Linked DNA regions of Homo sapiens. The protein of the gene in region 1 purifies or fractionates together with the protein of each later gene. This does not show direct contact. Each region holds a gene or a part of one and is shown on either strand. Other genes may lie near its edges. The genes, in order: SLC24A5 and ABCB10.

The links.
Region 2: the proteins of SLC24A5 (region 1) and ABCB10 purify together in Homo sapiens (affinity purification with mass spectrometry; 3 studies listed by BioGRID and IntAct, with this or other methods). This does not show direct contact.

Annotation. Positions count from the first base shown.
Region 1 is NC_000015.10:48,130,781-48,138,060, forward strand, and holds part of SLC24A5 (sodium/potassium/calcium exchanger 5 precursor), read left to right. Parts: intron 1-3,477; coding exon 3,478-3,561; coding exon of another isoform or gene 3,562-3,654; coding exon 3,655-3,758; intron 3,759-3,851; exon of another isoform or gene 3,852-4,103; coding exon 4,104-4,204; exon of another isoform or gene 4,205-5,902; coding exon 5,903-6,183; exon of another isoform or gene 6,184-7,280. UniProt on the Homo sapiens protein: Calcium, potassium:sodium antiporter that transports 1 Ca(2+) and 1 K(+) to the melanosome in exchange for 4 cytoplasmic Na(+). Involved in pigmentation, possibly by participating in ion transport in melanosomes.
Region 2 is NC_000001.11:229,527,483-229,534,762, forward strand, and holds part of ABCB10 (ATP-binding cassette sub-family B member 10, mitochondrial), read right to left. Parts: intron 4,250-7,280; coding exon 4,154-4,249; intron 2,927-4,153; coding exon 2,717-2,926; intron 1-2,716.

The DNA.
Region 1 (7,280 bases):
CCAGGAAAGAATAGAATGAGGGTGATTATGGTGCCAGTGCCACAAAGTGTAAACAAAAAAGATTCAGTCACCTACCATGTTCTAATGGGCCTAAGTGCCATTCTTATATTGGGTTTCTGTGGTAAAATAAAAACAGCATTGGGCTTAGAATCAACAGGCTCAGGGTTTATGCCCTAACTCTCAACATTTCAGATCCTTGCAATCCATGTGACATTATTTTACCTCCTGGGCCTGTTTATCTGTAAAATGGAATACCACCACTCATATTTCATGATAGTTGATATTAAATTATGTATATGGGAGTGCATTGTACACCATGAATATATTATTTACTTCATTTCTAAAATGAAAAACAGTTAATTACAGAGCCATCTCCTTTATCTTTTTGTTCTATGTTTTAAATATTATGGTCAGTTGTACACATCAGAATTGTAATAAGAATATAGTATATATGTGTGTCTATACATATATACACACACTGGTTAGAGTGATTATACGTATGCATGTATATGTGTATATGTATGTAATCACTCTAATCAGGAAAATAAATACTAGGAAATATGCTATGGTTTGGGTATTTGTCCACTCCAAATCTCATGTTGAAATTTGATCCTAAATGTTGGAGGTGGGGAGTAATGGGAGGTGTTTAGATCCTGGGGGTTAATCCTTTCCTAGGGGGTGAGTTCTCTCTCTTTAGTTCCTTTACAGAGCTGGTTGTTTAAAAGAGCCTGGCACCACCCACCTCTCTCTCTTACTTCCTCTCTCACCATGTGATCTCTGCACACACCAGTTCCCCCTCTATCTTCCACCATGAGTGGAAGCAGCCTGAGGCTCTCACCAGATGCCCAATCTTGAACTTTTCCAGACAGAGGAATCATGAGCCAAATAAACCTTTTTTTCTTTATAAACTACCCAGTCTCAGGCATTCCTTTATACACACAAAATGCACTAGGATACAATGTAAACTACAAAAATCATTTATTTCTCACCCTTCACTAGTCACTGCAGGTAGATGTTCAACAAGCAACATGACCAAAGGCAAACAGAATAGAGGGCCTGGCCTAAATAATTCTAACCACCCCAAGAGAACTTTTCACAATGGTTTTTCAGGTGTCAAAATAGCTTGGATTAGGGCTGGTTGGATCTCTCAGACCAAATTACCCCAAGGGATAAAATTAATGACTGGAGCTGGTATCATCAGCAGACAGTATGTAGGTGACAGATTTCTAAGTACTTCCCACATCTTTCAAAATGAAAGCCAAAGTCCTTATTAGGATCCACAAGACCTTACATGATCTGCCTATTACCTTTAATCTCATCACCTACTGCTTTCCCTTGACACTCTTCATTCTAGACATGCAGGTCTTCTGTTTCTTCACCACACAGACTAGCCTCTACCTCAATACCTTTGCAGTCATTTATTCTGCATAGAATACTTTTAGCCCAGGCATACAAATGACTCATTTCAAGGTCTTTAGTTACCTTCTCAATTAAGTCCTTTCTGGTTATCCAATCTAAAATTTCAATCCTTCCTCTCTGACATTTTTCTCTCTCTCCCCTCCCTGCCTTTACTCCTTGCAACTTATCTCTAACATCATACCTATTTTGCTTATCTTATCTGCTTCCCCTTACTAAAAGTAAAGCTCTGTGAGAGCAGGAATATTTGTCTATTTTGTTCACTGCCTTATTACTAGCACATTAAAAAAGCATCTGGCATATAGTAAGTACTCAATAAATACAACAAATAAATGAACCACCAGATGACTTAACTATCACCCCAAAACTAGTGGCTAAAAACAACAATTACTTTCACGGTTTTGGGTGTTTACTGAGCTAAGCTAGGTAGTTCTCACTCAGGGTCTCTTGTGCAGCTATGGTCAGAGGATGGAGCTAGAATCACCTGAGAGCTCACTCTCTCATATGTCTGGTGCCTAGGCTGGGAATTTTCAAAATCTGGGGACTGAAACAGCAGCAATTCCTTAGACATCTCTATTTCTATATGGGCTTTTCATGAGGTTTCTCCAGTATGGGGGTTTCAACAAAGTAGCAGGACTTACCATGTCGTAGCTTAAGGGAAATGTCCTGTGATGATAGTAAGGAAGTCGTATCACCTTTTATGTAGGGGATTAAAGGGTTCTGGAAAACTACGTGGAGCAGAAAAATACCATAACTATTATTGTAATATACAATCTGCCACACCAAGAAACACAAAAGGAATCAGTAAGCTCAAATGCCGTCCCAGCAGACTACAGAACAAGGTTCACCTGAGTGCAGGCAACAGGTGGTCCCAGAGACAAGAATAAGGAAATACCAACCACCTGTGACAGGGAGTCAACCAAGCACACCAGAGTTTGAGGGTCTGGGAAGACTGAAGCGTCAAAAACCAATAGGTATAGTAAACGACAATAAACATCAACAAAGAGTTGCCATCAAGTCTTGAAAACCCAAATTCTAGTTCTGACTTCGATACTAACTTTGTGACCTAGGGTAGATAATTTAATGTATGGCATGCTACCTCTATTAGCTAGTTTTTAGTTTATCAGTAAAGCCTGGTTGGGGATTTCTTATGCAAACCTATCTCGGCCTACGGCTTTCTCTGTTCCTTCCCATGGTAGGTCCCTTGGCCCTAAAATTGAAAGGACAAAAAACTTCTTAATTTAGTGACTCTCATCTTGTCAGTCCCTAAAGTTTATGAACTTGCATGCTTGTAAGCCTGGTGGATAGAAACAAACTGTAGTATTACGTATTTTCTTATATTCCTATTCTAGAGCAAAATTTTAATAGATCCATGTTTTAAATCAATAGACTACACAATATTAAATCTAGTTATTTTCTCTCATTTGTAATTAGACAACGTTGAAACTGCAAATTTTTTTAGAATATCCAGTTTTCTTGTGACTATCAGCCAAATTCAGCTACATTCAAATCATCAAAAATTCTCTGCATGGCAAACTGAAAAACCCCAGCCAAAGCCTCCCATATTCCGAATAATATTTTACACAAAGGTCCTATACCAGAAAATTTGAACGGACAGTTGAGATGACTTAACAGATGTGTGCAAATTTGTGAACAAGCTCTGTTCAGCTGCATTATACATCTAAAAAACTAACATCTTTTTTTTCTTCTTTGAAGTTGGGTTAGGATTTCCAAATTATCTTAATTTTCAAAGCCATGCTGTTGCTACTCACCTACAAGCCCTCTGCCTCTGAACGCTTTTCTGGGTTCCAAATAACCCTATGTTTGGCACTCAGGATATTCCCTTTAGTCTCCTGGCCTTCCCTCACCCTTTCTATAGAAGCATTAAGTAATGAAGTCATAAAGAAGCAAAACATTGGACTCTTTTAATCTGTGTATTTTATTTTTCTAGTTTAATAGTGGTTTTATGTGAAGCTGTAGCTTTGAGTATCTATTGTGTTTAGTTGTAAAGACATACTCTTTCACTTTATTAGGCATAACAATCATTTCATTTATGTTCAGCCCTTGGATTGTCTCAGGATGTTGCAGGCACAACTTTCATGGCAGCGGGCAGTTCAGCTCCTGAATTAGTTACTGCTTTCCTAGGTAAATATTGCTCCTTATACTTCTTGCTTACTCAGTGTGATTTTTATTTTCTTCAAGTTAACACTAACTTAGCTGGTACTATCTTGCACATAGGTGTATTTATCACAAAGGGAGATATTGGCATTAGCACCATCCTTGGATCTGCAATTTATAATCTCCTTGGCATCTGTGCTGCCTGTGGTTTGCTATCTAATACGGTATGTAACAAAACCATTCAACAAAATGTATTGTCTTAAAAAATTCTAAAGATAACTGTTCGTCGTCTGGGATGGACAACAGGGCACTAATAATATGTGCAATCAAATTTATTAATCAGTAGAAAAACAACATGTATTCAATTTAATGTTAATCCACAAATAGCTCTTGGTCAGATTTATGAAAGTCTGTGTAAGTTAGAACACAATTTTACATTTTTTTCTCTAAGCAATATGCAAAAGATAACAATATTTAACTACAAATATATAAACAATTTTAGTATTATACTAAGGATTGTACTTGAAGAAGTTACAATGTAATGGAAATAATAACTTACCATATTACAGGTCTCAACACTATCATGTTGGCCCCTATTCAGAGACTGTGCAGCGTACACAATTAGTGCAGCAGCAGTTCTTGGTATAATATATGACAACCAAGTTTACTGGTAAGCTTGAAAATAATTCTTATGTAAAAATTAGAGATTTTATGAATTTCTGATGGTTCAGTAATTTTTTTTCAGAAATGTTATTTCAGTCACTTAATCTGCCACTTCTATACCATATTCCAACAGGTCTGTGAGTTAACCTCATCACAATTGCTGATTGAGTTCTTCTCACTAGTTTGCAATTTCTTCTTAATCACTTCACAGTCTCCTTTTTTCTCTCACTAGTCACTGGAGACCACCACTTTTCCTTCTCCCCACTGGCTGCCTATTCAGAAAGTTTCCCAACTCCTGTTGTCCATTAAAGCCACAACAGTTGACTTTTTCTTCTGCTGGGTTACTGCTCACCTTGCCTTGGTTAGAAGTGTTCATGGCCACAAAAGACTGGAGAAGGATGGTAGAGGAAGTAAAAGAAGTCTTTTTAAATTCCTCCAAACTTCTGATGCTCATTCAGGAGAAACTATAGCCTTCCTCTAAGAAATAACAATGCTTAGCTTTTCATATTAAAAATTGTTTGCTTTCCTTACAATCTCTCTGTGCCTAGCTGGTCCAAGAAAATGAAAAAGGTGGTGACTGAGTGGACAGATACTAACTTTTTCAACTAGTAAGCAGCAGGCACCTACTAGGTCCTTCTCACTATGCTAGATATCATAAGGGATAATGAAATGTAAAACACAGCTACACAGGTTATATACATTGCATAACTCCAGAGGACACCAGAAAAATATGAAAAAAAAAAAATGTAATGGTGTCCATCTGGAGAACCATAACCTTGCAGCACGGCGTAATACCTGCTATCAAGAAACTTAAAACCTAGCCAGAAGCATAATTTCTAAACTAATCATCCTGTCCTCTAGTCCGTCTCCCTAAGACACTGTGTTGGTAGAATAGAAATCCTTCTAGAACTCAGCAGTTGTCTGTAAGGGATAGTGACTGTGAGAGTATCCAAGCTAATTCTTCCTCCATTAGGGAAATCAGAACTGTTCTTTAAGATACAGCAGACAGAGATTCACTGGCTATAAAAGGTAAATGCAAGGTTCAAATGTGATGGCATTAGCTAACTGCCAGAGTACAGGGAAACAGTTCTTGGTTCCAAGGGTATAATTTTATATTTTAGAACATCTTGTTTTCTTGTGACTGTAAGCCAAATTCAGCTACATTCAAATCATTAAAAATGCTCTGTATGACAAACTGAAAAATCCCAGCCTAAGCCTCCCATATCTGAGTAATATTTTACACAAAGTTCCTATACCAGAAAACTTGGACAGTTGAAATAACTTAACAGTTACTATATTATTTTATAATTATTATGTATGTTGGGGAATGTATTATGCCAATGAGCTGAGGCAGAAAATGTTCACCACTATTTATTAATTTTACATTTATTTTGAAAATCTCCAATTATCATTTTCCTTGCATTTTTATACCTATCATTTGGAAGGAATCTACAAGTAAAAACGAGTTTGTTGATCTTGTTTTTAAAAAAAAAAAAACAACACAGAAGTGTCCAGCTTTTATCAATAAACATAATAATGCTGTAATCAAGTCTGGACAAATCTACAAAACAAAAAATATCTAGAAATGTTTGATTGTTCTATGGCTACTTTTGTTAGAAAATCATTCAATAGATACTGCCCAAAAGCTATCAACTCTAAAATGACTTTCACTTTTAATTTAAAAACACAAATTTCTCTTTTGTAGGTATGAAGGGGCTTTACTGCTTTTGATATATGGATTGTATGTTTTGGTGCTGTGTTTTGACATTAAAATTAACCAATATATTATAAAGAAATGCAGTCCTTGCTGCGCCTGTCTTGCCAAAGCTATGGAGAGAAGTGAACAACAGCCACTGATGGGCTGGGAAGATGAAGGTCAACCATTCATTCGTCGGCAATCAAGAACTGATAGTGGAATATTTTATGAAGATTCTGGCTACTCTCAGCTCTCTATAAGTTTACATGGCCTTAGTCAGGTTTCTGAAGGTAATCACTAAATCTTGCCCATTATTAAGTCTATTCGCAAAGGAAAAACTTTAAAATTTCATTTCAATTCAGCAAGTATTGTGTGCTTTTTATGTAAAAAAGACTGTGAAGACTCAGAAATGATAAAGACCAAGTCCCTACCTTTAAGGAACTTCCAATATCACAGGAAATACAAAATAGCTAAAGTATGAACGTTAAGTACCATAAAAAGAGAAAAATAAAGTGTGACTGTGGTTCACAAATGGGACAGATTGCCAAAATGTGGTGAGGACAGATAGGAGATTTTCACAGAGAAGGGAGCATTTAAATTGGGCCTTGCTGGACAGGAAAGACTTTAACTAATGACATATGTTATGACCAATAAGTAGCAGCTACTGAGGTCTTCATTCCATAAATGATGCAGAGATAAAACACATAGAGCACAGTATGTGCATAGGAAGGAAGGAGAGGAAAGGTAGAAAGGAATAGGATAAGAAGAATCTTAAATGCTATTTTAAGAATCTTGGAAGGTTTCTGAGGAGAGAAATTATTAGAACTGTTATCTTAGTAATGTTACCCAAAATGATGTTCACCGAACTAAAATATGAAGAGACAAAGAGGTCTGTAAGAGAGGCTATTACAACAGCTGATGTGTTTACTAGGTGCCTAGACCAAGTGAAAGTGGTGGGAATAAATGAGAACAGATGTGAGACTATATGAAGGAAGCATCACCAAGACTATATGGGGCCAGAAAAAGGAACAAAGACACCTCCTATGTTTTAATCTTGACTGAGAAAATGGGAACAGCACTTATTAAAACTGGGAACTCAGAAAAAGGGGCTGGTTTGGAAGAAAGAAGAAAAACAGCTGAGGTTTACCATTGTTTAAAGCAATAGCAAAACTTTTAGGTAAATAGGTTCAGTAGGAAGTCAGAAAATTCAGCTATGGTCAAAATTATAAGTTCATGGGTTACCTTTTTATAAAGTGGTTGTCCAAAACAGATTCTAAATTTAATTAAGCCTTTAGGAGGGTTTTATTCTAATCTACTACTTAAAATTTTAAAACATGACTTTTCCCCCTTTTTACAAAAATTTTAGCTTCTACTCTTTCAGGTATAA
Region 2 (7,280 bases), on another chromosome or scaffold:
GACTTTCTGGATTGTCCAAGTTATTGTCTCCCGATAGTAGCTGGATGACTATCTCACCGAGTCCATCTGTCCAGCTTGCCTTCCTGTACTCCGGAGGTTGTAGGGAGTTTTCCCAAAACTCCCTAGTGACTTAGGATTCCACCGATAAGATGCACTTGTGCAAAGCTTTAATTCAGAAGGGAGGGGCAAGCCATGAGGCATCCACTTGCTGGCACGAATACTGGCAGAGGTGGCACAGCTCTGAAGCTGGCATTCATGACAGCAACTGCCTAAATTTGTAGCTTCCTGACCATGCCAGTGTCAGCAGCTACCTTGAAGGCCTGGTTCTGGGGTGGAGTTCTGCAAACTGTCCTGGAAGTACAATCTAGAATCTATTTTGTCATTCCTGCCAGTGATTTTTGAGCTCTTTTATTACTCCTTAAAATATCCCTTTCTGTAATAAGCTTAGTTGGTGAGGAATCTGTTGTCTGCAACTAAGAATCTGGTCGATACCATGGCAGAGCTTTTAAATAATCAGACGCTATCTTTATGACTTTTGCTAACAGAATTCTTCACATTGAGGGTGCTCAACAAAACTTGGTGATGATGACAACAGTGACAGCATAAGAAATGCCATTTCTTCTCAGTTAATGTTGTGGAATTATAGAAGCCAGCTGGAAATGTTCACAAACTGGCAAAAACTTGAGGTCTTTGACGAAAAAGCACAAAGCTCTTTATAGACTACACATGGCAGACATTTAACTGCAGTTTGCTTTGTCCTGGATTTATTCATTGTGATGAAGAAACTAGAGACTCAGTATTTTTACTTGAATTACAGCAACCTAAATAGGATTTTTTTTGGTCTTTTTTTTTTTTCCTTTTTATGGAGAACAAGGTCTCACTATATTGCCCAAGCAGGTCTCAAACTCCCGGGCTCAAGCTATCCTCCCACCTCTGCCTCCCTAAGAGCTGAGATTACAGGTGTGAACTACTGTGCCCAGCTAACTAGGATTTTTTTAAACTCCAAATTTTATAGCAAGTGAATGGTGAATCAAGAAAGTGATTCCAGAGACAAACAATGTAGTAAGCCCCATTTTAACACAGGTGGTGATTCCATGGGTCAGGATTTGCAAGTCACATATTTATCTGACATGTAACCAGCTCTCACATTGTTTTAACCAAAAAGCATAAGCACAAAGACACAAAACATTCATTTTTTAAATTACAGAATTTTTTTTTTTTAATAAATAGTGACAGGGTCTCACTATGTTACCCGGGCTGGTCTCCAACTTGTGGCCTCAAGTGATCCTCCCACCTCAGCCTCCCAAAGTGTTGCAATTACAGGTGTGGGGCTCCACATCTGGCCAAAATATTCTTTCTAAATTCATGATTTGATTTTTACTAAGAGTTGTTTGCTTGCTGACATTGTTGTCTACTACAGGGAAGATAGAAGTAAAATCATGTGCTCTTTGCTCTTAAAGATGTTATAATCCAGTTAAAAATAAAATAAAAACTAGAATGAGAAAAATCATCCATTAAGAAAATCCCGGCTGGGCGCGGTGGCTCACGCCTGTAATCCCAGCACTCTGGGGGACTGAGGAGGGTGGATCACGAGGTCAGGAGATCGAGACCATCCTGGCTAACACGGTGAAACCCCATCTCTACTAAAAATACAAAAAAAATTAGCCGGGCATGGTGGCAGGCGCCTGTGGTCCCAGCTACTCGGGAGGCTGAGGCAGGAGAATGGCGTGAACCCGGGAGGCGGAGCTTGCAGCAGTGAGCTGAGATCGTGCCACTGCACTCCAGCCTGGGCAACAGAGCAAGACTCCGTCTCAAAAAAAAAAAAAAAAAAAAAAAAAAAAAAAAAAGAAAATCCCTACTAGGTCAAAATAGTTTCAATGGAACAGTCACATAGAAGTTAATCACTGGCCAGGCACGGTGGCTCACACCTGTAATCCCAGCACTTTGGGAGGCCAAGGCGGGTGGATCACGAGGTCAGGAGATCGAGACCATCCTGGCTAACACGGTGAAACCCCAACTCTATTAAAAATACAAAAAATTAGCTGGGCGTGGTGGCAGGCACCTGTAGTCCCAGCTACTCGGGAGGCTGAGGCAGGAGAATGGCGGGAACCCAGGAGGCAGAGCTTGCAGTGAGCTGAGATCGCGCCACTGCACTCCAGCCTGGGCGACAGAGCAAGACTGTCTCAAAAAAAAAAAAAAAAAAAAAAAAAAGAAGTGAATCACTGATGGCCAAGTTAACTGTGTGCACAATAAGCATTCAATGGCTCACAGGCAGAGGCAGAGGTTCTCCAGGAGCTCCCTATCACTCCTGCGCCCAGCACGCGCACTGGCACACGGTGGTTCTCCAGGGTGCTGCTGGAGCACCCCAGGCACTCTGTCCTGGCTGCTGAGCACAGCCTCGTCCACCTGCTCCCAGTAGAGGGCATGTCCAGAGGAGATACCCGCATGGGAGATGAGGAGGTAGATCTGGGGAAGTCACTCTGGGCTTGAAGAGGTAGGACACATTACACACAAAAAGCTCTAAAGGCCTCTGTATGAGCTGTCATGCCCCTGCAAATGACACCTTCTGTTTGAGGGATTTCTTTCCACTGGCACTTAGAAAAGAAGGTACTCTACAAAATAAGGTATTTGCATGGTTTGAGCATCTCCTAGGGCGCAAAAGTGGGAGCAGAGCTCGGGAGAGTCCCTCGGTGCTACAGTGTGGTGAACTGCTTACCAGAAGCAGGGTCGTACAACCTCAGCAGGAGTGAAAGCACTGTTGATTTGCCAGAACCACTTGGGCCAACCAGTGCCGTGACAGATCCTGACGGAATGGAAAGGCTGAAATCCTGAAATATGGGCACCTCTGGGCGAGCTGGATAGGCAAAATGCACGTTCTTAAACTCCAAAGCACCCTGGAAGCTTTTCTCATTTAAGATGACCCCCTCTGAAACATAAAATGGAATATTAATTACTTACAGCAAAAAATTAAACTCAAAAGCTGAACTCGGTTCTCCTACTCATCTGGCTATGGATGGGTGACTCCACCACAGCTAATCCTGGTATATGAGCTCTTAAAGGGCAAGTCAGAAGCAAACCTAGGCTAAATGCTTACCACGTGCCAACTCTGCACCTACTATGTCCAAGGTACTATATACGTAGACGGTCTTACTTGATCCTTACAACCCTGAGAGGTAGAAATTATAATTCCAATTTTGCTGATGAGGACATTGAAGACCACAGACAACAACCTGCTTAAGCTAACAAGTAGTGGAGTTAAGATCCACCCTTGTTAGTCTGGTTTCAAATCCGATGGCCTTCTCTCTATGCCACTGCCTCTGTGTAGCTCCAGAGTTTATCTTACCTACCCGGAATAAATATTTTGGAAGAGTTATGATGAAACGGGGAGCGCTGCACAGCAGCCGCAGAACTGGAGGGGTCAGAGGTCTGTTCTGCCCTGGTGTTCACCTACTGTGCTTTGGGAGACACTACTGAAACTCTCTCAGCTGGACCTATTTCCTAGGCCTATCACATTGGAGAATATTGGGCTTTCATTTATGGACCTGGGGCTACCTGACAATGTCCTAGGAAGTCAATAAGCAGCTGGGAGTGGTTACTACTCATAGCCATTTCTCCTGATTCCTGGCTAGTTGGTTTAGGCCCTACAGCTCCAGGGAAGTCACTGATAAGGAAGGAGATGGCTCCAGCCAATGAGTACCAGCCTCCCCTACCCCACACCAAAATGCCAAGAAACTTAGATATTTTCTTATGTCTGATTCCTCCTCCCTTATTCCCACCCTAGCCCTCCACAGAGATGTCAGAATCACTAGGGAAGATCAATTTGGTAAACTAGCTGGGACACAGCCCTGGGCCACACTGACTTCCATCCTGCCCTTTGCGGTAACACCCAGATGGAGGGAGGGGAACAGAGGGCAGCACACTATGTGGCCAGCCCATGCATCCAGGGACACCCTGGCCCACAACAGTGCCCCAGCAGCTGTCCCACCCCCTCTCATAGAAAACCTGACCACCTCCTCACCCGGCCCGCCATGCAGCAGGAGCCACATCCTTACTGTGGCTCATCCCTCACTCCCTTGCAGACAGGGGAAGAGCTGGTCTCATTGTTCAAAGCCACATTTGTTAATCCTAGCAAAGAAACAATTTTCAGACCCACCGTTAAAAGGCAGCTTGGGCTCTCTCTCCAGGAGCTCCCAGAGGCGCCCCCCTGCACCCAGTCCTTTCATCAGCTCCGAGTAGAAAGAGCTCAGACCTGAGGATGAGAAGCAGAATCCACACACATGTCCATCACTGGCACTGGCACTGGCCACCACTCCTCTGAGAGGAGTGACAATGATTGCTTTTAATATAAAATCTGTTATTAATATTTTCAAAAAACAACTTGAGGCAGCTTCCTGGGAACTGATACTCAGAATTGCTTGTCTCATACTCTAGTTTTCCTTTGGCTTCTCCTCCTCCAGTTTCATAGTTTTTTTTTTTTTTTTTTTTTTTGAGACAGATCATCACTCTGTCACCCAGGCTGGAGTGCACTGGCACAATCTCAGCTCACTGCAATCTCCATCTCCCCAGTTCAAGTGATTCTCCTGCCTTAGCCTCCCGAGTAGCTGGGATTACAGGCGCAAGCCACCAGGCCTGGCTAATTTTTTTATTTTTAGTAGAGATGGGGTTTCGCATGTTGGCAAGGCTGCTCTCAAACTCCTGACCTTAGGTGATCCACCCGCCTCAGCCTCCCAAAGTGTGGGATTATAGGCATGGGCCACTGCACCTGGCCACATTTCACTGATTTCTAATAAGGACTTAATGTTTGATCAGGGATTGAAAAACATATATAGTCATACTCATCAACCACTGGATTAAAATCATAATGCCGCAGAGGAAATCTACCTAGTTAAAAGCATTGTAATTTAACTGAAATGTAATGCTATCTCATAATTTAAAAAAATATAAAATACTTCAATGTTGATTTTAAAGACAAATCCACAAAATAATACCTCACCTTCAGCCACTCAATAAATACAACTTTGATACGCTACTCACATACTCCCATATACTTCAAGTAATCTCTAGATTACTTATAATACCTCATACAATGTAATGCTATGTTTAAAAAAAAAAAAAGGGCCAGGCAAAATGGTTCATGGCTGTAATCTCAACACTTTGGGAGGCCAAGGTGGGAGGATTGCTAGAGCCCAGGAGTTCAACATCAGCCTGGGCAACATAGAGAGAACCCTGTTTCTACAAAAAATAACTGTAAGGCCAGGCCTGGTAGCATGTGCCTATATTCCTAATTACTTGGGAGGCTGAGGCAGGAGGATTGCTTGAGTCCAAGAGGTTAAGGCTGCAATGAGGTATTACTGCACCACTGCACTCTGGCAGCACTCAGAGCAACAGAGCGAGACCCTGTCTCAAAACAAAAAACAACAACAACAAAACTTTCACAGTAGTAAAAACTGAAATAAATTTGGTTAATGTTAAACATTCCAGCAATCTCTTTATTTTTATTTTTTTGTGGAGACAGGGTCTCACTATGTTCCCTAGACTGGTCTTAAACTCCTGGGCTCAAGCAATCCTCCTGCCTTGGCCTCCCAAAGTGCTGGAATTACAAGTGTGTGTCACCGTCCCTGGTCTCTAGCCATCCCTTTTTAAAGTCAGCTTTGAACCATTATTATTATTTTTTTTTGAGACGGAGTCTTGCTCTGCTGTGGTGTAGTATCTATCACTGAACCTCTGCCTCCCAGGTTCAAGCAATTCTCCCTGCCTCAGCCTCCCGAGTAGCTGGGATTACAGGTGCCCCCCACCATGCCTGGCTAATCTTTGTATTTTTAGTAGAGATGGGGTTTCACCATGTTGGCCAGGCTGGTCTCCAACTCCCAACCTCAAGTGATGTACCCACCTCAGCCTCCCAAAGTGCTGGGATTATAGGTGTAAGCCACCATGCCTAGCCTGAACCATTTAACAACTTAAACCCCAAATGCAATGGTCTACATCAAATGTGAGGACATACATTTGTAACATTTTCCCTCAGTGAGGATGCTGAAAAAATACAATTCAAATATTCTACAGTATGAATATTTATGCAAGATACAATGGACTAAAATTTTTAGGCTGAATTAAAAATGCATTTGGCAAAAATAGACCCCCATAAACAGTCAACTGATTTTTGACACAGAAGCAAACGCAATACAATGGAGATGCAACGGCAATATACATATTATCTTTTTAACAAATGGTTCTAGAACAACTGAATATCCACATGCAAAGAAGGAATCTAGACACAGACCTTACACCTTTCCCAAAAACTAATGTAGAGTGAATTACAGACCTAATGTAAAACACAAAACAATAAACTCCTAGAAGGCAACCTAGGAGCAAGTGTAGATGACCTTGAATTTGGTGATGACTTTTTAGATACAATACCAAAGGTACAATCCATGAAAGAAAGAAGCTGGACTTCATTAAAATTAAAAATGTATGCTTTGCAAAAGACAATGTGAAAAGAAGAGGACCAGCCACAAACTGGAAGAAAATATCTGTAAAAGACCTATCCAATAAAGGATTGCTACCCAAAATATACGAAGAACTCTTAAAACTCAACAATACGGAAACATGAAGACTTACTTAAAAATGGTCAAAAGTCCTGAACAGACAACTCACCAGAGAAAATATACAGAGAGCAAATAAGCATATGAACAGACGCTCAACATCATATGTCATCAGGGAAATGCCAACTAAAACAACAATGAAATACCATGCATCTATCAGAATGGCTAAAAGCTAGAACACTGACGCCACTAAATGCTGGGGTGGATGTGGAGCAACAAGAACTCTCATTCCTTGCTAGTGGGGATGCAAATGGGACACACATTTTGGAAGGCAGTTTGGGAGTTTCTTACAAAACTAAAATTTTTTTTGTAAGAAAAAAATTCATTCGGTCACCATAGAGATGTCAAAAATTGCCAATGCTGGCCGGGTGCGGTGGCTCACACCTGTAATCCCAGCACTTTGGGAGGCCAAGGTGGGCAGATCACTTGAGGCCAGGAGTTCAAGACCAGCCTGGCCAACAGGGTGAAACCCTGTCTCTACTAAAAAAAAAAATACAAAAATTAGGCCAGGCGTGGATGGCTCATGCCTGTAATCCCAGGACTTTGGGAGGCCGAGGCAGGTGGATCACCTGAGGTCAGGAGTTCAAGATCAGCCTGGCCAACATGGTGAAACCCCGTCTCTACTAAAAATACAAAAAAAATAGCTGGACGCAGTGGCACGCACCCGTAGTCCCAGCTACT